7 linked regions of the Homo sapiens genome follow. The protein of the gene in region 3 interacts with the protein of the main gene of each other region in a biochemical or structural test. Each region holds a gene or a part of one and is shown on either strand. Other genes may lie near its edges.

The links.
Region 1: the proteins of PRPF40A (region 3) and WIPF1 form a complex in vitro, tested with the Homo sapiens proteins (one study listed by BioGRID).
Region 2: the proteins of PRPF40A (region 3) and WASL form a complex in vitro, tested with the Homo sapiens proteins (one study listed by BioGRID).
Region 4: the proteins of PRPF40A (region 3) and CYFIP2 form a complex in vitro, tested with the Homo sapiens proteins (one study listed by BioGRID).
Region 5: the proteins of PRPF40A (region 3) and FMNL3 interact in far-western blotting, tested with the Homo sapiens proteins (one study listed by BioGRID).
Region 6: the proteins of PRPF40A (region 3) and RPL4 form a complex in vitro, tested with the Homo sapiens proteins (one study listed by BioGRID).
Region 7: the proteins of PRPF40A (region 3) and RCC2 form a complex in vitro, tested with the Homo sapiens proteins (one study listed by BioGRID).

Annotation. Positions count from the first base shown.
Region 1 is NC_000002.12:174,587,805-174,591,304, forward strand, and holds part of WIPF1 (WAS/WASL-interacting protein family member 1), read right to left. Parts: intron 1-3,500. UniProt on the Homo sapiens protein: Plays a role in the reorganization of the actin cytoskeleton. Contributes with NCK1 and GRB2 in the recruitment and activation of WASL.
Region 2 is NC_000007.14:123,739,004-123,742,503, reverse strand, and holds part of WASL (actin nucleation-promoting factor WASL), read left to right. Parts: intron 1-3,500. UniProt on the Homo sapiens protein: Regulates actin polymerization by stimulating the actin-nucleating activity of the Arp2/3 complex. Involved in various processes, such as mitosis and cytokinesis, via its role in the regulation of actin polymerization.
Region 3 is NC_000002.12:152,710,962-152,714,461, forward strand, and holds part of PRPF40A (pre-mRNA-processing factor 40 homolog A), read right to left. Parts: intron 1,407-3,500; exon of another isoform or gene 1,343-1,406; intron 1-1,342.
Region 4 is NC_000005.10:157,391,623-157,395,122, forward strand, and holds part of CYFIP2 (cytoplasmic FMR1-interacting protein 2), read left to right. Parts: intron 1-1,210; coding exon 1,211-1,378; 3' UTR 1,379-3,500. UniProt on the Homo sapiens protein: Involved in T-cell adhesion and p53/TP53-dependent induction of apoptosis. Does not bind RNA. As component of the WAVE1 complex, required for BDNF-NTRK2 endocytic trafficking and signaling from early endosomes.
Region 5 is NC_000012.12:49,648,406-49,651,905, reverse strand, and holds part of FMNL3 (formin-like protein 3), read left to right. Parts: intron 1-455; coding exon 456-524; intron 525-613; coding exon 614-738; intron 739-1,027; coding exon 1,028-1,230; intron 1,231-1,980; coding exon 1,981-2,215; intron 2,216-2,367; coding exon 2,368-2,436; intron 2,437-2,566; coding exon 2,567-2,647; intron 2,648-2,747; coding exon 2,748-2,877; intron 2,878-3,500. UniProt on the Homo sapiens protein: Plays a role in the regulation of cell morphology and cytoskeletal organization. Required in the control of cell shape and migration. Required for developmental angiogenesis.
Region 6 is NC_000015.10:66,497,515-66,499,685, forward strand, and holds the end of RPL4 (large ribosomal subunit protein uL4), read right to left. Parts: intron 2,139-2,171; coding exon 1,893-2,138; 3' UTR 501-1,892; downstream 1-500. Other genes in the region: SNAPC5 (snRNA-activating protein complex subunit 5), read right to left, coding at 128-217. UniProt on the Homo sapiens protein: Component of the large ribosomal subunit. The ribosome is a large ribonucleoprotein complex responsible for the synthesis of proteins in the cell.
Region 7 is NC_000001.11:17,412,178-17,415,677, forward strand, and holds part of RCC2 (protein RCC2), read right to left. Parts: intron 1,541-3,500; coding exon 1,360-1,540; intron 1,002-1,359; coding exon 896-1,001; intron 18-895; coding exon 1-17. UniProt on the Homo sapiens protein: Multifunctional protein that may affect its functions by regulating the activity of small GTPases, such as RAC1 and RALA. Required for normal progress through the cell cycle, both during interphase and during mitosis.

The sequences.
Region 1 (3,500 bases), about 22 Mb from region 3:
CTGCCTCACTCACTCACTGCCCTTTTAATGGTCTGATAAACACTTTCAGGCAGGCGAATTAGTGCCACAGCTCACCTGTTAACTAGGCTGGAATCTGTTTTCAGTAAGAGACTGTCTCAGGCAAGGATTCTTTTAAAGTCTGTTTCTTAAATTGCTCTTTCTGGCATGACATCAATTAGTCACCCATAGGGCCACATGGGCATTGTGAGCAGGACTGGGTGCCTGTGTTAGGGGGTCCTCCATCAAGGGGCATCTCCAGCGGCACATTCAGAGGCCTTGGAGTCAGACGTCTCCTAGGACCAGCAGGAACGAAAGGGATCTGATTCAGGCCTGACTACTGCGAAAGATGCTGGAGCCAAATCAATGGTATGATCAGAGTTGGGAAAGGCTTACCAAGGAAGGGGGATAGCCTGGTCTGCCCGGTGGGCCCAAGAGATGGGCTGTGGGAACAGTGCATCCACGTGCTTGGTTGATGAAAAATCCCTCAAGACTATTTTGTCTGACTCCACGTTCACCGATTAACTTTCTGTCATTCTGTGATCCTAATATCTAGGAAAGGGTGGATATTCTGGTCAACTAACAGGAACCTCTTATGGGTATGGTTGTCATGAGTTCGGCTCTCGTAACAGAGATCAAATTGAACTTCTGTCCTGCACAGCTTAGGGGGCAGACTGTGGAATGGGGACCCTTTCAGGGGCTGCCACCCTGAAAGGCCTCCTTAATTATTTTACAATTCTCTGTTGCTGCTGTTTTAGTACTGTCTGTGCACTAACTGACTTGTATATTAACTTCTGGATGACAGCTCCAGGGAGGGCGTGTTAACTTCATGGTCCAGAGGGCTAGTGTGGGAGAAATGGCAACAGTCATGGCTGGGGCCAGAGCCAAGGCCAGATTGCAGAAATTAGCAGGCAAAAACAAGGTTCAGGGAGCAAGATGCTATTAAAGGGTCTGAGGTATTGAAAGAAGTGCTGCCTTTCCTTCCTGGCCACTTCAGATGGACAGTGGGGAGAGGGTCTACGGGTGAGGGCTCTCACTTTTTAGAGGGTGATGCAGAACTAAGTGCTCTTTCCTCTCTTCCTCTGCGAACTTGTTTGCATGGCTTGCTTTCCCTGGCCCCATCTCTCACTCCCCTCCAGATTAACTGTCCCTTTCCAATCTCAATGGTAACACAGATGAGGGAGGCTGCCATGTCCTCTCTCCTCCCTTCTAGCTGAACAACTGCTGGGCACGGTCTGGACTTCTCCAGGCTGGGGCCTCAAGGGAAGTGTGTGAGAAACCCCAGACTCCAATACTGCCACCTCACTCAGCCCCTGGATCAAAGACCAAGCTCGTGTGCCCCAACACTGGGCCCACCGGCCACACCAGGCCCACTTCTTGGCTGTCTTTCCACCAGCCTATGGACTCCATGGGGTCTTGCCAATACCTGGCACAAAGTAGGGTTCTTACTAAATATATATGCAGTGAAAGAACTGTGTATCACACAAACAAGCCGAGTGCTTGCCACTTGAAGGGCTCCCAGCATCACCCCACCGCACTGTGAGATCTGGGCAAAAGAATCAGCCCTATTTCAGAGGGGCTTGCTAGTGTTGCAGACTGGAACTTACTTTCCTGGCAGCCTCCAACTTCCCCAGAGAAGTAGAGCCCCAAGGCCCTGGGAGAGGAGGGCTTCCCTCCTCTCATGGACTTGACAGCCCACATCAGAGCCACAGCCAGATCTTACTGAAGGCCTTGGCCCTAGAGCACGGATCCTAACAGACCAGGCATTCCTGCCTGGATCCTCACACCCAGAGTCTGTGGATAGAATTCAAGGGTTCATGAACTTGTATGAAAAAAAAGTACATATTATTTCTACTAAGCACTAACTGAAATGTAGCATTTCCTTTGATTATGAATGCAGGCCACAAACCATAATATCTGATATTCTTTCACCCATAGTTTTCACGTGATATTTCACATCATATTACAACTACACACCAACAATTTTCAACATGCTGGCAACGTTTAGATCCATTGCTAGATCTTGTTGTTTAAACCATTAATAAAGAAGTACATATTTTAATAAATTAGTTTCCTTTGTAATTCTCTGTATTTTATTTTATGCATTTAAACGTAGACACAAAAGGGTCCCTTTGGGACTGGGAGTGGTGACTTATGCCTATAATCCCAACACTTTGGGTGGTCAAGGTGGGAGGACTGCTTGAGCCCAGGAGTTTAAGACTAGCTTGGGCTACAAAGTGAGCCCTTTATCTCTAAAAATAAAATAAAATAAAATAAAAACAAATTAAAATTAAATTTTTTAAAAAAAGGAGTCCTTTGGGCTTTACCAGTGGGTTTATAGAATGAAAAAGGGAGAACATGAGACCTTGGTCAGGCAAATTTGGTTCTGAATCCTTGCTCTGCCACCTGGCAGATTCAGATGGGAATTTGTTTTTCCCATCTGTTAAATGGGAAGTTGCTGAGCAGATTAAATGAAATGGTGTGTGCAAGGCTTTCAGCATGGCCTGGGGGAGCAAAGCTGTCAGTGGACAGGGCTTAGCTCTGTCCTTCAGAGGGTGAGGATGGGTCCTGCTGGTACAAGCTGCTGAGTGCCTGGCAGAGGAGGGATGGACCTGGAGGCTAGTCTGAGGGGCCACAGCTTTGCTCAGTGGCTGTGGGTGGATCTGCCTGGGTGGGAATGAGGCTGACTGATGACTGGGCCTCCCAGCATTTGGTTCTTCCCTTGGAGATGGGAGCATGGCAGGAAAGGCAGCTGATTCGGGTGCAGGAGAGACGCAAGAAGGGAAGGGACTCAGCAGCAGTTTCCCAGTGTGGTCAGTCATCTCCTGCATCAGAATCTGCTGTGCCTGTGTCCGGCTTCCCAGACTAGTTGGGCTCTCAGTAGTGTCGGATCACATGCCTACCCACTTGCTGGGCCTTGCCCTCCTACCCCACCCCAACCCAAGCAATGAACTTTTAAGAAGTCACACTTTTCAGAATTAATTTCTTTTTAAGAATAATTTCAATGTTAAGTAACTTTCATGATAGAAAAGCCAGACTTTCTAAAATCTTTACTTGGTGTGTTGACTTCTACAAACACAAAGAAAACTCAAGGGACAGAAAAGGCTTTTGTTTTCACATACAGTATTACGGTCTGAACTATGTCCCCTGCAAAAGTGATATGCTGAATTCCTGACCCTCAGGACCTCAGAAGGCAACTGTATTTGGAGATAGGGTCTTTAAAGAGGTGATTAAGCTAAAATGAGGCCATTGGGTGAGATCTTAATCCAATTTGACTGGTGTCCTCATACAAAGAGGAAGAGACATCAGGCATGTGCTCACACAGAGGAAAGTCTTCAAGTGAAGACGCAGTGAGAAGGTGGCAAACCAAGGAAAGAGGCTTCAGAACACACCAAACCTGCCCACATCTTGATCTTGGACTTCCAGCTTCCAGAGCTGGGAGAAAACAAATTTCTGTTATTTGATCTACCCAGGCTGTGGTATTTTATTATGGCAGTCCTAGC
Region 2 (3,500 bases), on a different chromosome or scaffold from region 3:
GGTTTTTAGTTTCAGTGGTAGACTTAATAGTTATAGTGAATTGACTTGGTTACTTTAGAGACTGATTCAAGATTGAGGTTACTGTGGGGATTCATTTGTGTGATTAAAATAATCTTGGTTTTCTTAAATTTTTTTGTAATGCACTGGACAACATGCTGAAATTATGGCTTATTATATTAGTGAATTTTGTATTCCTGAAACAGCATACCAAGAGACACTAGAACCTTTGACAGAACTTTTCTGAAACCCAAATGAATGCCAAAATTAGGCATGCTTTTAAGATGCAAAGGGCTGGGTTTTATCTTTTACTGTCTTTCTTGCTTATTCAACTTCTGTTCTTGCTGTGCTCTGGATATTAGAAAGCACAGCTCTTGAGGAAAAGATGTGACTGGGCCTTTTGAACAGTGTCTCTTTCACCAAGTTCTGCCAGTCACTCTTTGGCCATCTCTCTGTTGTGGACAGTTGTAGGGATTTTATTTAAAATATACTATTTTTTTAAAAAGTTATCTTTTAATGTAAAAATTGTATCTATGAGTAATATCAGATTATAAAGTCTGGAAATAAAGTCTTGATTAGAGAGCAGGTTTGATTAGGACATTCAGGATTCCTCATAACATATAGAATTGGAGCTACTTAAGCGTTGGCCAAAGTACAGAGGAGCCGGGTTCTATTTGTTTTGCTGCTGAGCAATTCCTACCATGTGTATCAGTATTCTAGTCTTCTATAGTAAGATTTTTAAAAAGTCTTTATAAAAACTGGTAAGAGCAAAACTTTCCTAAGGAAATGCATGCTTGTAGTAATCTCATGTATTTCACTTTTGTCCATATTCTATAGATTTTTTAAATAAATAATATTAATGGAAGTATAATGGTAGCCCATTCTAGTTTTGAGTAGAAAAACAGATTTTAAAAGAGCAGATAAGGGTTGAACTTTGTTATAATTTATTCTGTCTAGAAGTCATAGCTTTCCTAATAGAGTTCACTCTTACTCTAAAGGTTCTAGAAACAAAAGTTTATACATTCATAGTCACAGTAATAGGATATACATTGTTAACTATAAATATAATTCTTATAGGTCACCTAGCATCGTTGATGGATTCTTGGAAACTGTGACTTTAGGTGAAACAACACATAATGAAACCAGTTTTACCATAGGGTAATTGATATAAACAAGAGCTAAGTTTCTGTAGCATATATCACCAAACTTCTAAATAAAGACAAAAACACTTCTAATATTAATTAATGAAATAAATGTGAGCTGTAACACATTTAAGAAAGAGTAATAAAAACAAGATAATTATTTACCCAGTTACTTCACTTCAGTCTCAGGTGGCTGGAGCCTATCCTGGCAGCTCAGGGTACAAGGCAAGAACCAACCCTGGACAGGACATCATCCCATCGCAGGGTGCACTCATACCTACACCCACAACTCACTCGCACACTTGCTCATCCTGGGATAATGTAGACAGACCAGTGAACCTAACATGCACATTTTTGGGATGTGGGAGGAAATCCAAGTACCCAGAGAACCCAATAGACATGGGGAGTACCTGCAAACTCCACACAGACAGTGACCCCAGCTTGAAAATGATTTTCTTTTCTCATCAAAGTTAATAATGGGCTGGACGTGGTGGTTCACACCTTTAATCGCAGCGCTTTGGGAGGCTGAGGCAGGAAGATCACTTGAGGCCAGTAGTTTGCCACCAGCGTGGGCAACATAGACCTAATCTCTACAAGAAAAAGTAGCTGGTAGTGGTGGCCCATGTCTGTAGTCCCAGTTACTCCAGAGGCTGAGGCAGGAGGTTCACTTGAGCCCAGGAATTCAAGGATGCAGTAAGCCATGATGAGGGCATTGCACTCCAGCCTGGGCAACATAGGAAGACCTGGTCTCTTAAAAACAAAAAAAAAAGTTATGATGAAAGGACATTGAACAAAATGATGTTGAACAAAAGGATGTTATTTGAGGACCTGCTGTATTAAGTATTTAGTAATTAGGAGACATTTGGCATGCTTAACCATATTCATAAATATAGTGTAATACAAAATAAATCTTATTTATTGCATCTATGTTAGTAGTCTCAGAAGTATTCGAGAGTTATACTGATATAATAGCATATAGGAGAGTAAAACTAATTAGAAAACATTATTTTCTCATAGGAGTTAATGCACTGTAGAGGAATTGTAACCCTTTTTTTAAAGAGACCAAATAATTGACTGTAATGTTGAAGAGGTAAATACAGAAAAGCCCCTCAAGAAAATGTGATCAAATGAAAGATATATATATAAAAGATAATATATGAGATATATCTGACATATGTATGAGATATATATGTCTTATCAATCAACTCCTTTACTAATACATAAACTGATGCATAAACTAGCTAGAAACTGAAATGATTTTTATTAGTGAAACGTAGTCAAGTCTTGAGGACTTACTAAGCACATAACACCCTCCCAGTATCTTGGAATATGAGGGAGCAGTAAGGAAAATCCAGGTTTTACCCCTCAGTTATTCACTGTATAGCTGAAGAAGACAAAAATTATGCACAAAAAGATATATGCTGCAAACCAGCATATATATATATATATACACACACACACACACACACACACACACACACACACACATATATAAATGTATAAAAGATTTGAATAATAGAGAGGAGAGATAGGTATATCATTGTGGGACTTGAATATGAAAAACCTTAAATAGCCTAGAGAATTGATGTCAGAAACAAGCAGCTTATCAGGTACAGATGCTCTTCTACTTATGATGGATTATGTCCTGATAAACCTGTCGTAAGTTGAAAATGTTGTAGTCAAAAATGCATTTAACACACCTAACCCACCAAACATTATAGCTTAGCCTAGCCTTCCTTAAATGTGCTCAGAACATTTACAATAACCTACAGTTGGGCAACCTGATGTAACACAAAGCCCATTTTATAATAAAGTGTTGAATATTTTACATAATTTGTTGAATACTGTACTGAAAGTACAAAACTAAATGGTTGCATGGGTACTCAAAGTATGGTTTCTACTGAATGCATATTGCTTTCGCACCATTGTAAAGCTGAAAAATTGTAAGTGGAACCATCATTAGTTGGGGAGTGTTTATATCAGGAAATGTGTAAACAAAAGTTTGGGATAGAAAATGTGTATAGAATTTTAGGAGGCATTGAGGAGACTGGTTGGCTAGAATTGAGAATGACATTTGCTTGGGCAGATAGTGGATGGTAAGTTTGAAGAGTAAATTGAGGCTAGATTTTGGAAGACCTTTGAACTTCAAGTCTTAAGGATTGAACTTTATTCCCTAGAAAGTAAGGAAACACTAAGATTTCTTCAAGAAATTTCAAGATAGGAAGGATCTGGAGAAAGAAAATTGGAAATTATTATTCATAATAGAAATAAGGATTGAGTAATACTTTATTGTTTACTAAATTTCTTATTTATTAGTTCAGCACATCAGATCTGACTAAGAAACCTGGAATTGTGGCAGCT
Region 3 (3,500 bases):
GTCAAGAATTTACAGACATTAGGTCTGAGTTAAGATATTTTTTAAAAGTACTTGCTTGAGTCATCCACATGTACCCAGAAGTTACCCAGATTCAAGAATTATGAGCAGATGACCTAAAAAACAAAAATTCTATCTCTTTTTTGTCACTGGCTAATGCCCAATTCAATGGCATGGATCCTGTAGCTACTCAAAAGGAAGGGTAATTCAGAAGGAACAGCAACAAATAAATTTGTCAAATCAGTCAGGTAAGTCTAAGGTACCAATACACTAAATTTCTCTGCAAGGCCTATATCCTACTTTGTTATTTTTTCCTCTACATTACCTCTACATTACTTATAATACCTTACACAATGTAAATGCTATAAAAGTTATTATACTTTATTTTTAAAAATTTGTATTTTTTTGTTGTTGCTTTTTTAAAGACTATTTTCCATCGCAGTTGCTTGAATCTCTGGATACAGAGGGTCGACTGCAAATGGAAATATTTTAGTTTTATTCTCCAAACAAAAATTATTTATTTCATCTTATTTATCTTCCATTTTTGTCAAATGAAAAAGTAAGAGTAAAGAGGCAGACACTAAAAACAAGAATAAGTAGTAACAACGTAAAGTCACAAGTAACCACTGGAAACAGTCACATTTAACACTGACTGACTTATGGGCTTATACTGCAGGAAAGAATACCTGTGTATTTGTTTCATTCATTCAACAAGTATTTTACTGAGCACCCATGATGTGCCAAGAACTGTGCTCAGCACCTATAGGCTTCTTAAAAAGTACAGAACATAGCCCCTGCCCTCTAAGAGCTTACAATCTATTACTTGTTGGAAAATTAAAGCAAATTAAGAAACCATAAAACAAGTCAATAACTAGGTGCCAAAATAAGTGAAACGGTAAGAGTTATGGGTAGATTACAAATATTTTCTTTAATAATCTGAAGGGGAGGTATATGTTGGCAAAAGTCATTTTTGAGAAACTTTTGGAGAAGGCAGGACTTGAAATAGTACAACATAGGTAAGCAAAGCAAACTTCATGGTGATACTGAGCTGGGGGCAGGAGGGTAAGAAGAACAGCCTAAGTTTGAAGTTGTGAACTAATATAATCACTCAAGACACCGTGAAAAGACCAGCCTAAGTTCAAATTAGGGAGTGTAAAGACATGCAGCCTTGAATCCTGCTTTGACATGTACTATGGGGAGGTTCTTTAAAGTTAAGCTGTGGAATTTAGATACTATGTTATAGGCACTGAAAGTACTGGAGATTCTTGGGCAAGGAGATAACACATTGAAATCTAAAATTTGTGGGGGCAGGGGGGCATCCTTGAAGCAAGAAAACCAACTCAACTCAAAAACTGTTGAATAACCTAGGCATGGGAGAGTGACGACTTGGGCTCATGTGGTAGCAGGAACTGAAATAAAATAAGATCTATTAGAGCCAGCCTTACTCAATATAGGAGCAAGAAAATCAAACTCATTTGTAAAAAGCAATTATTCATTTATCAGTTTACTGACCAAAGACCAAAAAAAAAAAGCACTGAATAAATAGAATTAGGGAGGCATTACTAAAGGAATTTTCTGTTCTTTCCATATCATCCCATAAAATCTGATATCTACTCTTATCAAATGATCTGAACTGAATCATAGGATGTTAGAGCTGAAAGGGACCTTAACTCAATTACTCTACTCTTCTCACTGATAGAGGAAAATAAAGACTCAAATAGGGAGGAAAAAAAAAGAGCCAGCTAGCATGACTCTGGGGCAAAGGCATAATCATCTGTGATAAAGATGGCAGGACCTGCATGTCCTTTGTGTAGAAAACACAAAAGACATGAAAACAGTATTTACTATGGACACTGAGGAAGAAGACAGCCTCACACATAATTTTATTGATAGAAATCTCTACAGAAAATCTTTATTTTTTTGAGATAGGGTCTCACTTTGTCACCCAGGATGGAGTGCAAGGCGTGATCTTGACTCACTGCAGCCTCGACCTCCCAGGTTCAAGCAATCCTTCTGCCTCAGCCCCCTAAGTAGCTGGGACGACAGACGCACACCACCACACCCAGCTTATTTTTAAATAGTTTTTGTAGAGATGGGGTTTCACCATGTTGCCCAGGCTGGTCTCCAACTCCTGAGCTCAAGCGATGCACCCGCCTCAGCCTCCCAATGGGAAATTTTTGAGTACTGCCATCCAGCAGGGAAAATTCTTTATCTTTCTTTACTAACATTTAACCAGTGATCCTCAAAGCATCTTAAATCACATATTATTTAAAGCTTAAACAACCTGTAAGGTCCCTTTCAGCTATAAGATCCTATAACTCTAAAAGTATGACTTTCCTATAAAGTTATATAGAATAAGAGGCAAATTTAATCTACAAGATAGAAAACTGAAATAAACCTGAAAGAATATTAAGCTCAATTTGATAATCATCAAATATTTATTACTACTAAGAGTCAGCCTAAATGCATGAGATGGCACTCTAGGTCATCTCATGAATTAAGAAAAAAAAAATTTGAACACACCACTTCTTTAAGCTAAATAGCTTGATGCATTTGAGAAATTATGAACCCTGGCTTCCGTACATCATTATGCTACCCAGTCTGCATATTATTTTACAAACAAGTTTTACAGTTTCATGTCATATTGGTAACATTCCAAAGACCACAATTATTTGGCAAGTAAGACTGCCACCAATTTTAGTCTTTAGCTAGTCCCAGCATGAGATGTTCATGCAAACCAGTCAACACATGAAGGTTTTTATAACCTTCAGTCCCAAAGTCTAAAGAATTTGTGAACTGACTTTTTTAAATTGCATGGCAGAACCCTCCCAACTGTCACTACTGTGAATGATACAGACAGACATCCTGCTTCTTCTCAATTATCTTCTGACCACTTATTCCTCCTGAGTACTTCCAAGAGTGGCAGAAGAAATAATGCAGGAAAAAGGATCAATTGTCCTATTTATTATCACCTTTAATTTTTAAAGCAATGTTTACAGAGTTTCAAATATGATTTCTGATTTGAGAATTCAAATTATCCATGCTCTCCCAGTCTGTTATAAAGCTAAAACAAGAATTTGTTTTACCAAGATTTGGGACCCATATTTGTTAGTGAAATATTAAGGGGATAAAAGGGAATTATATAATTCTGACAAAAACAGCGGAGATTCTTTTGGGACTTTCAGGGCATAACTCCTACTAAAACATTTATTTATTATACTAACAGGAGCCTTCAGAGGGAGAAGAATTCTAAACATCTAAATAATTAGGTCTACTTAAAGGCACGTGGCATATATTAGCCTAGGAAAAAGTAGAAGAAAACCACACCAAAAAAATCAGTTATTTGAATGGATGTGTACCGAGTAGCAAGTAAACTTACTAGAAAGATGGTCACTGATACAGCTAAAGAGAAAGGGCCATAAAGCAAACTGTGACCAGCTTATGTCAATGAGATACATGAAAGTACTTTTAAAAAATAAAATCTGCATTTTTTTTTTTAACTA
Region 4 (3,500 bases), on a different chromosome or scaffold from region 3:
TATGGCTGTATAATATTGCATTGTGTATATAGACCACGTTGTGTTTGTCCACTCAGGTTGCTGTCACCTTTTGGGTATTTTTGAAAATGGTTAATTTTGGCTACCATGAAACATGGGTGTACAAATAACTCTACAAATTTCTGCTTTCCATTCTTTTGAGTATATACCTGGACGTGGAATTGCTGGATCGTATGGTAATTCTATGTTTAACTTTTTAGAAACTGCCATTCTGTTTTCCATAGTGGCTGCACAATTTTACATTCCCACCAGCAGTACACAAGAGTTCCAATTTCTCCACATCCTCATCAGCACTTATTCTTTAATAATAGTCATCCTGAGGGGTGAAAAAGTTATCTTGTTGTGATTTTGATTTGAATTTCCCTAATGACTGTCACTGCTGAGTGCTATATTCATGTGTTATTGGCCATTTGTATATCTTCTTTAGAAAAATGTCTATTCAAGTCCTTTGTCCATTTTTTTAATTGAGTCATTTTTGTTGAGTTGAAGTTCTTTACATATTCTAGATATTACTTATCAGATATAATTTGTGATTATTTTCTATTTTTCGGTTGCCTTTTCATTCTCATGGTGTCCCTTTGATGCATGAAAGTTTTCAATTTTGATGTAGTGCAACTTTTTGCCTTTGCTTTTGATGTCATACCCCAAGATATTATTGCCAAATCCAACATCATGAAAATTTTTCCCCTATATTCTCTTTTAAGAATTTCAGTTTAATCTCATGGTTACGTCTCTAATCCATTCTGAGTTAATTTTTTGTATATGGTATAAGGTAAGCGTCCATTGTTATTTTTTGTGTGGGTATCCATATTTCCCAGCACCTTTTGTTGAAAAGGCTGTTTCCCCCATTGAACAGTCTTGGCACCCTTGTTGAAAATCATTTGATCATATGTGTAATAGTGTATTTCTGGGCTCTCTATTCTGTTTTATTCATCTGTACATCTACCTTTTTACCAGTGCCACAGTGTTGTTGATTATTGTAGCTCTGTAGATCGTTTTAAAACTTGGAGAGGGTTTTTACGGTCCAGTTAACACTTGATTGCCAGATCCAGGGGATTCCATAAAAGGACTTTAAGAAAGTGACATGATCACTGATGCAGGGGACCCTGGACCTCAGTGACTTCTCCTGTTACTCCCTCTTTCCACCCCCACTTTGTCCTGCCCTAACTTGAACATCCCCTTCCTTCTGTAGCCCCTGAAGAAGATGGCCGACCGGATCAGGAAGTATCAGATCTTGAACAATGAGGTTTTTGCCATCCTGAACAAATACATGAAGTCCGTGGAGACAGACAGTTCCACTGTGGAGCATGTGCGCTGCTTCCAGCCACCCATCCACCAGTCCTTGGCCACCACTTGCTAAGCAGAAGATCCTGCAGACCCTTATCTGGAGGAGGAAGAGAAGCAGGAGAGAGAAAGCCACAGCCAGCCTGCCATAGGATCCAACTGGACAACGTGTGGGATGGACCTGGAAACAAGCACCTCCCCAAACACATCACCACTCCCTAGGGCGGGGCCTGTGCATGCTCTCCCATGACATCTCCATGCTGGTTTCTCCATAGCATAAATGAAAAAAAAAAAAAAAAAGTAAACAGGGCAGTGTGTGCTTTTTCTTTTCTCCCCCCTCAACTATATTAAGAACTCCTAGTTTCACCCTTTCTCCATCCCATCATCCCACCTATCTGTGGTTGCTTCCCAAGACCTCCTCCCAAGATAGACATCTCCTACCCAGTGCCCTTGTGTGACCCCAGGACTCAAGTCTCAGACTGTGAACAGATGTGGCCATGCCCAGAGACGCCAGCCTGGCCAGAAGGGCATGCCTCAGCTTACTACTTCATCTCTCCTGGTTCCCTCCCTGCAGTGCCCCGGGTGTCATCTTCTCCCACTCTGGGTACCAGGGATTCTACCACATAGGCTTCCCAAAGCCCCATTCTAACTCCCCTCTCTCAGGGAAGCCCTAGAGAGAGGTCCAAAAAGCATTCACAGCTGTATCACACTCTATGCAGGTGGGGTAGGAGACTGATCAGGCCTGCTGTGGGGAAGCAGTATGTATGAACACAGCCAGAAATGTCATAGTCCAAACAGGATGCTTTCAGGCCATCTCAGCTGCTTGATGGTGAGATGGTTCCCTTATTCCTTCAGGAAAGGCTTAGCATTGGGCCACATAGGGGAAGCAGCTTTGAACAAATCAGTCATAGCACTGCCTATAGCATTAGCCAGTGACCAAATTAGGGACAACGTCTTGGCACAGAATTGCTTATCAAGGAACATTTCCACAAGAAAGAAAATATTAAGGGGTTATTTCCACAGAAGCCCAAAACGTCTTGGAAACACAGAGGTGAGGAGGAGGAATAGTAATTGTCAATGAGCTTTTAATACCAAGATACACCCCCTGCCCCCAAAGAAGAGTCCTCTTTTAGGGAATCAGAACCTTCATTGTCCTAGAAGCTGAAAGATTCTTGGAACATTTTAGCTTTTACTCTCAACTTGCTGTTCTCTTTACATTCCTTAAGTTAGACTTTCGGGTGTGGCTTCTCTCCCAGGGGTAACATTTACTTCCATTTTCTAGACTGAACCAAAAGTCTTCTGCAGAATCTCCCACCGAGTGTGGTAAGAAGGAAGGACAAAAGGCTTTAGGATATAAATTTCATGTTACAGAGCATGTCATTGTCAAAGGAAATCTGTGGCCCTGAGATTTTAAGAACATAAAATGTGACATTTGATATTTCTCCAGCCCAGGGAAGTAAGATGGTTAGCAATGGTTGCCTTAATCAAATGGTCCCATTTTTAACCCCAAAGGAAGTGCCCACAGCAAGAGGTTTGTGTGATGCACTTATGTCCTCCGGTGAGGAAAGGGGGCCACATATGAAAGGCCCCTTAGGTCAGATCCTGAGAGTAGCACATTTGAGTGCAGATTCCTGGGCCCCACCTCAAACCTACTAATTCTGAATCTCTGGGAATAGGGCCAGGAAATCTGCCCTTTCTACAAACTACCCAAGTTGTTCTGTTGCACATCAATGTTTGGGAACCACTGCTGTAAGGGAATCATTCTGGTCACCTTGAGCTTTGAGCTACCACTAAGCCATGAAAGAAAATACATCATACAGGGAAGAGAGAAGGGAGGAGGTTCCAAGTAGTAACTGGCAGATCCTCCTGTCTGGAGGTACCACCTTCTATTCTGGTTTCTGACTTTTCCTTCTTGATGACCATAGATGTGTTCCAGAGGCAAAAGAGACACATTATCCCAGATGGCAGAACATGCTTTCAAAACATATAAAATGTCAAAGTTCCAGATCCTTCTACATCTTTAGTCCTGTCTGAGGATGGTAGCTGGCTCTCTGTAGCTGATAGATGGCTAGAGTTCCATCCAAATCCTTGACCACGACTTCATGGAGATTTGAATAATCTATTTGATGAGATTTCTATTTCAATAACCCACCTCTCTCACCCCACATTCATATCCCTAAATTTGACCCTCTGGGCCG
Region 5 (3,500 bases), on a different chromosome or scaffold from region 3:
CAGGGGCAGCCTCTTTGTGGGGACCAAAACTGTAGTCAGCAGTGTCTTCCTCAGGGAGAAGCTGGGAAAATGGCATTATCTGAGGACTTGGAGGGATATAAAATCAGGGTGAGGGAGGCCTGGAATCTGAGGGAAGCTCAAGTTATCAGCACAGGGATGCCCAAAGGCAGATGTGGACCTGTTTTAAGGATCATAAAGATGTTGCTCCCAATTCCTTTGAAGACAGCCAAGGAGAGGCTTAGACTGTAGCCATAGAAACTGGGTCAGAGACCAGCAACAACTGCCCTGTCAGAGTTAGATTTCTGGGAGCAGCTTGAGCAGAGTTCATGTAGGCTCCTTCTCTGAGAGTTTTTTTTTTTTTTAACTCTCAGAGAAGGTGGGACAGGCAGAGGGGAGGGAAGCCTATGAAGAGTCTCTTGACGCCTGGGTCACTGTGTCATTTCTTCTTCCCCCAGACAAGTGTCCCCCAGCCCCACCTCTCCCTGGTGCTGCACCCTCTGTGGTGTTGACAGTGGGCCTGTCAGGTGAGTATCCCCAGGGCTCTGGGCAGGGCTGGTGGGACCAGGGGTGTGTGTCCTTGGCCCCTGTGTCACTGATCCTCCTTCCAAATTAGCCATTCGAATTAAGAAACCTATCAAGACCAAGTTCCGGCTGCCTGTCTTCAACTGGACAGCACTGAAACCCAACCAGATCAGTGGCACTGTCTTCAGCGAACTTGATGATGAGAAGATCTTGGAGGTAACAGGGCCTGGGGTCCAGAGGGCTAAGGTTGAGGGCTAGGGACCTGGTTGCCTTTTGAGGAGATTCTGGTCTTAGAAAAGCCATCAGACAGGGTGAGGCCAGGCTTAGCTCCACCAACCCTTCATTCTTGAGTGTACGTATATTTCTAGTTGTGTCAACACTTTGTGTTTGTATTCAGGAAATATTCCAGAGTGACAGAGCTCTGGGCCAATGCTGGGTGGGCTGTCATGAGGTCCTCCACTAGTATGAGGCTACAGCGTTTTCCTTGCTCACCTATTCCTGCCAGGACCTGGATCTTGATAAGTTTGAAGAATTATTCAAGACAAAAGCGCAGGGCCCTGCCCTTGACCTCATCTGCTCCAAAAACAAGACAGCGCAAAAAGCTGCCAGCAAGGTGACTCTGTTGGAAGCCAATCGTGCCAAGAACCTGGCCATCACCCTACGCAAGGCTGGCCGCTCGGCTGAGGAGATCTGCAGGGCCATTCATACGTGAGGCTCCCACTGACCTGGCTCTGGTCCCTAGTCTGTTGGCAACCCAGTTCTCCACCCAGGAGCCTGGGTTTCCCTAGATTCCAGGTCATCTGACAGAACTCCCTCACATCCCCCTAGTCATCCACTGGCTTGGCTAGAATTTACTGCATCTGTGCTGGCAGTTCAGCCCAGACCTTCACCCAAGGAGCTCTCAGTCTATTGGGAACAGTGCAGTAACACTGAGTGATACCACCAGGATGGTAGAAGTATACAGGCAGCTTTGGGAGAATAGGGAGGTTCATGTAGCTGAGCTTGGTGATGAATGAGGGAAGCCTTCCCAGAGGAGGTAATGTCTCAACTGGGACCTGAAGAAAAGATATGAGTTAGTCCAGTTCAGGGCCTGGAGGGAGAAGCATAGTGCCTTGGGTACTAAAAATTGAATCTGGCTTTAGTGTAGGGAGAGGAGCAGGAGAAGGTAGAGAGTTGGGCAGAAGTCTTGCAGGCTGGACCTCGTAAGCCATGCTCAGGTGTTTGGACTTCACCCTAGGTACAGTGGGAGTACATCAAAGGGCTTATTAAACAGGAGCATGGAGTGTTCCCCCGGGATCATTGCTGGTGCTGTGACAGATGATGCAATGGGTCCTTTGCCTTTGGCTGTGTTCCGTGTACAGTCCCCTGTCCAGTTCTTCTAGGAGCTTGGAGAATAAAAGGGATGAGGGAAAACGTGGAGAGATGTGAGAACTGAGGTGGTCCCTCCCTCCTCCACAGGTTTGACTTGCAGACACTACCTGTGGACTTCGTGGAGTGCCTGATGCGCTTCCTGCCCACAGAGGCTGAGGTAAAGCTGCTGCGGCAATATGAGCGGGAGCGGCAGCCCCTGGAGGAGTTGGCAGCTGAGGACCGCTTCATGCTGCTCTTCAGCAAGGTGGAACGGTTGACCCAGCGAATGGCTGGCATGGCCTTCCTGGGGAACTTCCAGGATAACCTGCAGATGCTCACACCGGTACAGCCCCCACCCAACTCATGGCTCTGGACAGCTGTCCCTCCACCCTCCATCTGCTAGTCACCTCCCCTGCCCTTCCAGTCCTTCTGACCCCTCCCTGTCTTTACCCCATCTCAGCCTGGGGTTACTTCAGTGTTCATATTGTCCTACAGCAACTCAATGCCATCATTGCGGCGTCCGCTTCCGTCAAGTCTTCACAGAAGCTGAAGCAGATGTTGGAGGTGGGAAGAGGTTGTGAACAGGGGTGCTGGGGGTTTTCAGGTCCTAGGTGGGGGCCTGGGGCTATACAGAGAGGAAGAAGGAGCCTTCAGGACCTGAGCCTGACCTGCCTCCCACACATTCTTTGGACAGATCATACTTGCACTGGGGAACTACATGAACAGCAGCAAGCGGGGAGCTGTGTATGGCTTCAAGCTCCAGAGCCTGGATCTGGTAAGATGGTGAGGGCAGCGTGGGCCAGGAAGCCTGGGGGGCAGCAGTTGTGGAGCCAGAGTGCTTAGCTCTTGTGCACCGCCCTCACCCCCTCTCCTAGCTGCTGGATACCAAGTCCACTGACCGGAAGATGACACTGCTTCATTTCATCGCCTTGACAGTGAAGGAGAAATACCCAGACCTGGCTAACTTCTGGCATGAGCTGCACTTTGTTGAGAAGGCTGCAGCAGGTGAGGAGAGCCTGGCTGGGTGGGCCTGCCCTCACATCCAGCCCAGGACAATCCCAGGAAGCTATGAGGAGAGAGAACACTTGGGTCCATTTGTTTCTGGCTTTTGTTATCTTCTTTCTGACCACTTCAAAGCTTTCCGCTGGAGCCTTAAGCAGGGGCCACTCCAGAGGGAGCCTTCCTCCAGGCGCCAGGCCTGGCCCAGCCCAGCCCTTCCCAGCTAGGTACAGTGGGAGCAGGAACAAGAAGGGGAGCAGTCGCTCTTTACTCCCAACTCCCTCAAGCTGGCCCCAGAGGTCTTGTGTTTTGTGTATGATGTATGTGAAGTGCTTAGAAAAAAATCATAAAGCTCTCTATAGACATGAGGTAGCTGTTATTTCTGCCCCACCCATGAACCCTAGGGCAGGCCTGAGGCAGTTTCATTTTGGAGACCAGCAGTCTCTGTGGCTTGCCTGCCTTTGCTACTGTGTTCTTTGGGGTCACAAGCTCAGTTTCCATTCCATTCCCTCCCCCTGTGAGGGATCAGCTAGCTTGGTGTGTACTTCCTTATGTCCATACAGGTATGTGAACCTGAGTGAGCCCATGCTGAGGGGGAGGGCCAGAGTTTGATATAGCTCTGGGCTGGG
Region 6 (2,171 bases), on a different chromosome or scaffold from region 3:
GGCGCCACCACAGCTAGTGAGTAGCGGAGAACTGGCCGCAGCAGGTGGTCACCACAGAGGCCCAGGTTGGGGGGAAATGGTCGCTCGGGAGGAATGGAGGAGGGGCAGGAGAGGGCCGCGGGGTCACCTTGAGGCGGTTCAGCTGGTCGTGCAGGGCTGCCTTCAACCGCAGCAGCGTCTCCTCCTCCTTGCGCAGTTCCTGAAGCCGGCTCAGCATGTTGCCTGGTCACATAGCCAACCTCCGGGCTGCTGTCGGCCCGGCACTCGGTGATGACGCCATCGCCGCCGACTCCCGGAAACCGAGCGGGGAGGCGGGGCTGCCCGACACATTGAGGAAAGGCGAGGAGTGCGCCCCCTTCCGGCGCCCGCCGTAGCCTGGCCACTCCGCGGGGGACGAGCTGCAGGAAGGGGTACAGCCTGTGTCAAAACACCTTGATTCATGAGTAATGATCAGGATTTTGAAATTAGATCCATGGAGCTGTAAAGAACCTGAAGAAATCTTGGGTTTGGCTATCCTTTAATCCGATAGGCCATTTGCGCACCAAGTGGTCAAACACCGTTTCAAATGACCGGGTGAACAGCACTTCCAATGTGGTGTGCCACCAAGTGGCTATCTTTAACCCCACAAAACTTGCACATGTGTTTGAAGGCAGGCACCAAATCAGTAGCACATGAACTCTACTGTGTTAAGAGGCCCTGCAGGGTAGGACTCACAGTGGACTTTAAAGGGGTAAGGCTGCACAAAATAGAGAAATAAAGAGCATGAAAATAAAGCCGTGCTAAGAAACGACGTGCTTAAGAACTGAGATTTGGCCCTGGAAATGGGGAGGGTTAACAGATCACCTTGGCTGTGAACTGAGACTGTCTTGACAGTTCGAGACTGTCAGAGAGAAGCTGACAGTTTAACAATCCAGATGCAAAACAAGACTTTTGACACAGGACAAGAGGTTAATTCTAGGGTAATATTTGCAGTTTAGCTTTATGGGTAAAAAAAAACACCCTTATATCTGGAGGCATTTCATGGGTACTTCTTTTGAACACAGTTGGTTAACATAATCACCAAGACACACAGGCAGTCCTGAAAAATGCTTCTGGTACTTTTCAGAGAGTCTTGCTCTGACGCCCAGGCTGGAGGGCAATGGTACAATCTTGGCTCATTGCAACCTCCACCTCCCAGGTTCAAGTGATTCTCTTGCCTCAGCCTCCAAGTAGCTGGGGTTACAGGCATGCACCATGACTGGCTATTTTTTATATTTTCAGTAGAGACGAGATTTCATCATGTTGACCAGGCTGGTCTTGAACTCATTGGCTCAAGTGCTCTGCCCACCTTAGGGTCCCAAAGTGTTGGGATTACAGATGTGGGCCAGTGTGGCCTTCTGGCACTTTTTCAAACCATGGGTGAAAATACTCAACTCTATTGTTATAGCTGGTTAAAAAGAACACTTCTCAAGAGGTAATCAATTTTACTGCAGTACCAAAAAAATTGTGCTCTCCAGTTGTGCCCTCTTGTGGTTAAAGTTAAATCTTTACAGAATTTAACCTATTTTCCATCTGGTGGGGAGCTAAACTTGAACAGCCTCTGCGTTTCTGACCAAGTCCTGTTACACCTATTTTTCAAGCCACATTATTTAGAAAACCACAACTTTTTTTAAATCATTCCCCTTCCACTGAACTCCATGGACTTAGTATAAATCCATGCCCCATTTTATACCACACTATATAAAATGTAACAGTCTAAATTATGGCCAACAAAATGTCACTTTAAAAAAATTCTAACCAAGCTTTACAGAGCACACCAAGTCATGTTTCTCACTGCCTGTATAATCAGGTCTTTATTCAAAAGAAGCTGTCCAAAATGATTTGACCTTTATGGAATAATCAAATTTAAGAGTTTATGCAGCAGGCTTCTTCTCCTCTGTAGTAGGTTTCTTCTCTGCAGGCTTCTTTTCAGGGGCTGGTTTCTTGGTAGCTGCTGCCTTTTTTCCCACCAGAGGCTTCTTCTGCTTCTTAACACCAACAGCAGCCTTCTTTCCTTTCTTACCTACCACAGGCTTCTTGCCTGCAACCGCCGCCTTCTCATCTGATTTGGCTTGTAGTGCCGCTGCTGCAGCAGCTGCCTTATCCACCCGGAGCTTGTGCTGCAACAAATTAGGCAGAAAACAGTAAGAATC
Region 7 (3,500 bases), on a different chromosome or scaffold from region 3:
CAATGATGCTGCTCTTCCTGCAAACAGGCAGGCTGTCACTGCAGGGCCAGCAGCCCCAGACCTGCACCCACGCAGCTATGGCTCAAGGGCATGAGTGTGAGCTGCCACTTTTCCCTTGGCGTACTCATTCCAAGTAGCAAACACAATAACAGGGCCAACAGGTTTCTCCTCAATCCTAAGATTGTTCCGTGCAGGCCACTCAACGCTTCAACAAAACAACAAAGCCCTTAGACAGGCCTAGGGGCCAAAGGCAGGGGACCTTGCTGTGCATCCTGCACAGCTCTCTCTCAGTGGGAGGTCGCTTTGGGAAGAGGAGACCAGATCAGGATAAAGTGAAAGCCTGTTCCAGAGGGAGCAGCCTTCATGCATAATGATTTGGGCAGGGCTAGAGCCTTCAACAGATTAAAGCCACGCCGACAGAGGCCCCTCATACTGTTCCACCCACACCTGCCAGCTGATAAATCCAACTCCTCAGCAAGAAGTGCTAGCTAACTCAACAGGTGTCCTGAAATGAACTACAAACCACTGCTGCCAAGACAATGTCGTCTTCCCAGTGTCACAGCAACTCAAGTCCTGCTACGTTTCCAACTACGTATAATTTTCAACCTGCAGCGTAGGAATACATCAAGCTCTGCTTGTTTATTTCTTTGAACAGAAACCTTCAAAATGACTTTCTTCCCACAAGACAGGGAACAGCCATCTGTTCTAGCAGCAAATGGGCCCTCTCCCCTCCTGTACCCCCGGACTCTGGGATTCAGTGTGTCAGATGGCCTGCTGAGGACAGCCCAACAGGCAGCAGAAACAGAGCCCCATCAGGGAGGGGCACCCCATGGGTGTGTCTGACACCCCCATGAAAGGAAGAGACCTCATACCCACAGGAGATGCTGCCACCTACCCACAAGCCAGGCTCCGGATTCTCCAGCCGCAGAGGTCCTGCACTGCTTTTGGGTACATGGTAGATTCACGGGAGGTGTTGGTGGCCCCCCAGAAAAACAGACCACCTAAGGGAAGACAAAACATGTTCCCAGCGTGACCAGACATCGAGAGCTGAGTCTCATCTTCAGTATTATCAGGGTGAAAAGAGGACGGGATGGCAAACAAGTGTTCTGTCTAAAAGATAACTGGAGCCAGGCGTGGTGGCGTGCCTGTGCAGTCCTAGCTACTCAGGACGCTGTGGTGGTAGGACTGCTTGAGCCCAGGAGTTCGACACCGGCCTGGACAACACAACGAGTTCCTGTCTCAAAAAAATAAAGAACACTGGGAGGTAAAGAGAATTGGGGTTCGTGGTCTAGGGACAGGACAATGGCTACACGGTTCCGCACCAGAGCACTGATAAGCCAGGGGGCAGAAATCACTAACCCACTTCACTGACAGCAAAGGAGCAGGTGTAACCAGCATAGATCTGGGAAGCCCCACGCCCAGGGAAGTCAAACAGCTTCACCAGGCGGGGGACCATCTCATCCTTCTGCTCTGCGTGGCCCAGCCGGCCATAGCCACCAAAGCCCCAGGAGAAGACTCGCTTCTGGGAGTCCAGGACCAGCTGCAAGGAAAGAAAACACAGGGTTGGAACAAACAGACTTCCAACAGGCAACAAGAGGGGTCATCGTTTCTGTGCAGACAACCTGGTGCAAATGCTAAGGGCAAAGGAACAGCAACATTCAAGATCCCCTACCAGCCGGGCACGGTGGTTCACATCTAATCCCAACACTTTGGGAGGCCAAGGTGGGTGGATCACTTGAGGTCAGGAGTTTGAGACCAGCCTGGCCAACATGGTGAAACCCTGTCTCCAAAAACCAAAGAAATATCCTTTGCCTGCCTCCAGCAGAAAGATCCTCTACCTCCCGCCTCCAGCAGTGGGGGAGGAGGCAACAGGAGCAAGTGTAGCAAAATGGCATGCATTCAATAAGCCCAGTTTGCTATTTTCTCTGCCAGGGACTCCATTTTCCAATCCTTTTTTGTTCTGTTTATTTATTTAAGTTACAAGTCTTAACCCTTTCCTTAATCAGAAGCAACAGGGCTATGTCTCCTGAGAGTTGGGCAATCATTTGATTCCCACTACAACAGAGATTCGGCCAGATGCAGTGGCTCATGCCTGTAATCCTAGCACGTTGGGAGGCTGAGGCAGGTGGATTGCCTGAACTCAGGAATTCAAGACCAGCCTGGGCAACATGGTGAAACCCATCTCTACTAAAATACAAAAAAATTAGCTGGGCACAGTGGTGTGCACCTGTAATCCCAGCTACTCAGGAGGCTGAGACAGGAGAATCTCTTGAACCTGGGAGGCGGAGGCTGCAGTGAGCCGAGATAGCGTCACTGCACTCCAGCCTGGGTGACGGAATGAGACTCCATCTCAAAAAAAAAAAACAAAACGAAACAAAAAAAAAAACACAACAAAAAAAAAACAGATTCAATTGCAGAAAGAACAGAAAAGGCCTACCTGTTCCTGGATTTTTCGTTTCTTTTCCCCCCCTCGAGAGGGTCTCGTGCTCTGTTACCTAGGCTGGAATGCAATGGCACGATCACGGCTCACCACAACCTCCACCTCCTGGGCTCAAGCGATTCTCCTACCTCAGCCTCCCAAGTCGCTAGGACTTGGGTGTGCACCACCATGCCCAGCTGATTTTTGTGGTTTTTTTGTAGAGATGGGGGTCTCACCATGTTGCTCAGGCTGGTCTCAAATGATCTGCCCACCTTGGCCTCCCAAAGTCCTCTGATTACAAACATGAACCACTGCGCCCGGCCTGGATTTTTCTTTAGACTTCCCTCACCCACAGGTACAGAGGTAACCTGTACCTGGTCACTGATGAAATGAACTCAGAGACACTTCAAGTGTTTAAGATTTATCTTCTTCAGTCTCGTTTTCCCATCTTCTGACATGCCAATTCAGTTCTTTGATGTTTCATGTCTAAACCATGGGAATCTACAACTTACTAAAAAACTTGGCCTATAAGGCCCTAAACAAGAGCCAACTTTATTTCCCCTGACTACATCAGACAAAACAAATCAGTTTTTGGACTTGCACAAACTGAAATCTCCTACCCTAGTCCTAGCCCAATTCCCTGGGCATTCTTCATCGGCAAGAAGATTCCAAGGGAAGGAGGTGGTGAGCTGAGACCACTCAGTGGGGAGGACCAACTTGATCTCTGGAATCCTAGCCCAGGCTTTTTCAACAAAGCATAGAACAAAGAGACTCCTAGGCATTCTCAGACAGAAGAACCACAGGAAGGCCATTAAAATTAAAAGATACACTAACAGCCGGGCGCGGTGGCTCACACCTATAATCCCAGCACTTTGGGAGGCCGAGGCAGGTGGATCACGAGGTCAGGAGTTTGAGACCAGCCTGGCCAACATGGTGAAACCCCATCTCTACTAAAAATACAAAATTAGCCAGGAATGGTGGCAGGTGCCTCTAATCCCAGCTACTCAGGAGGCTGAGGCAGGAGAATAGCTTGAAACAGGAAGACAGAGGTTGCAGTGAGTTGAGATCCCACCACTGCATT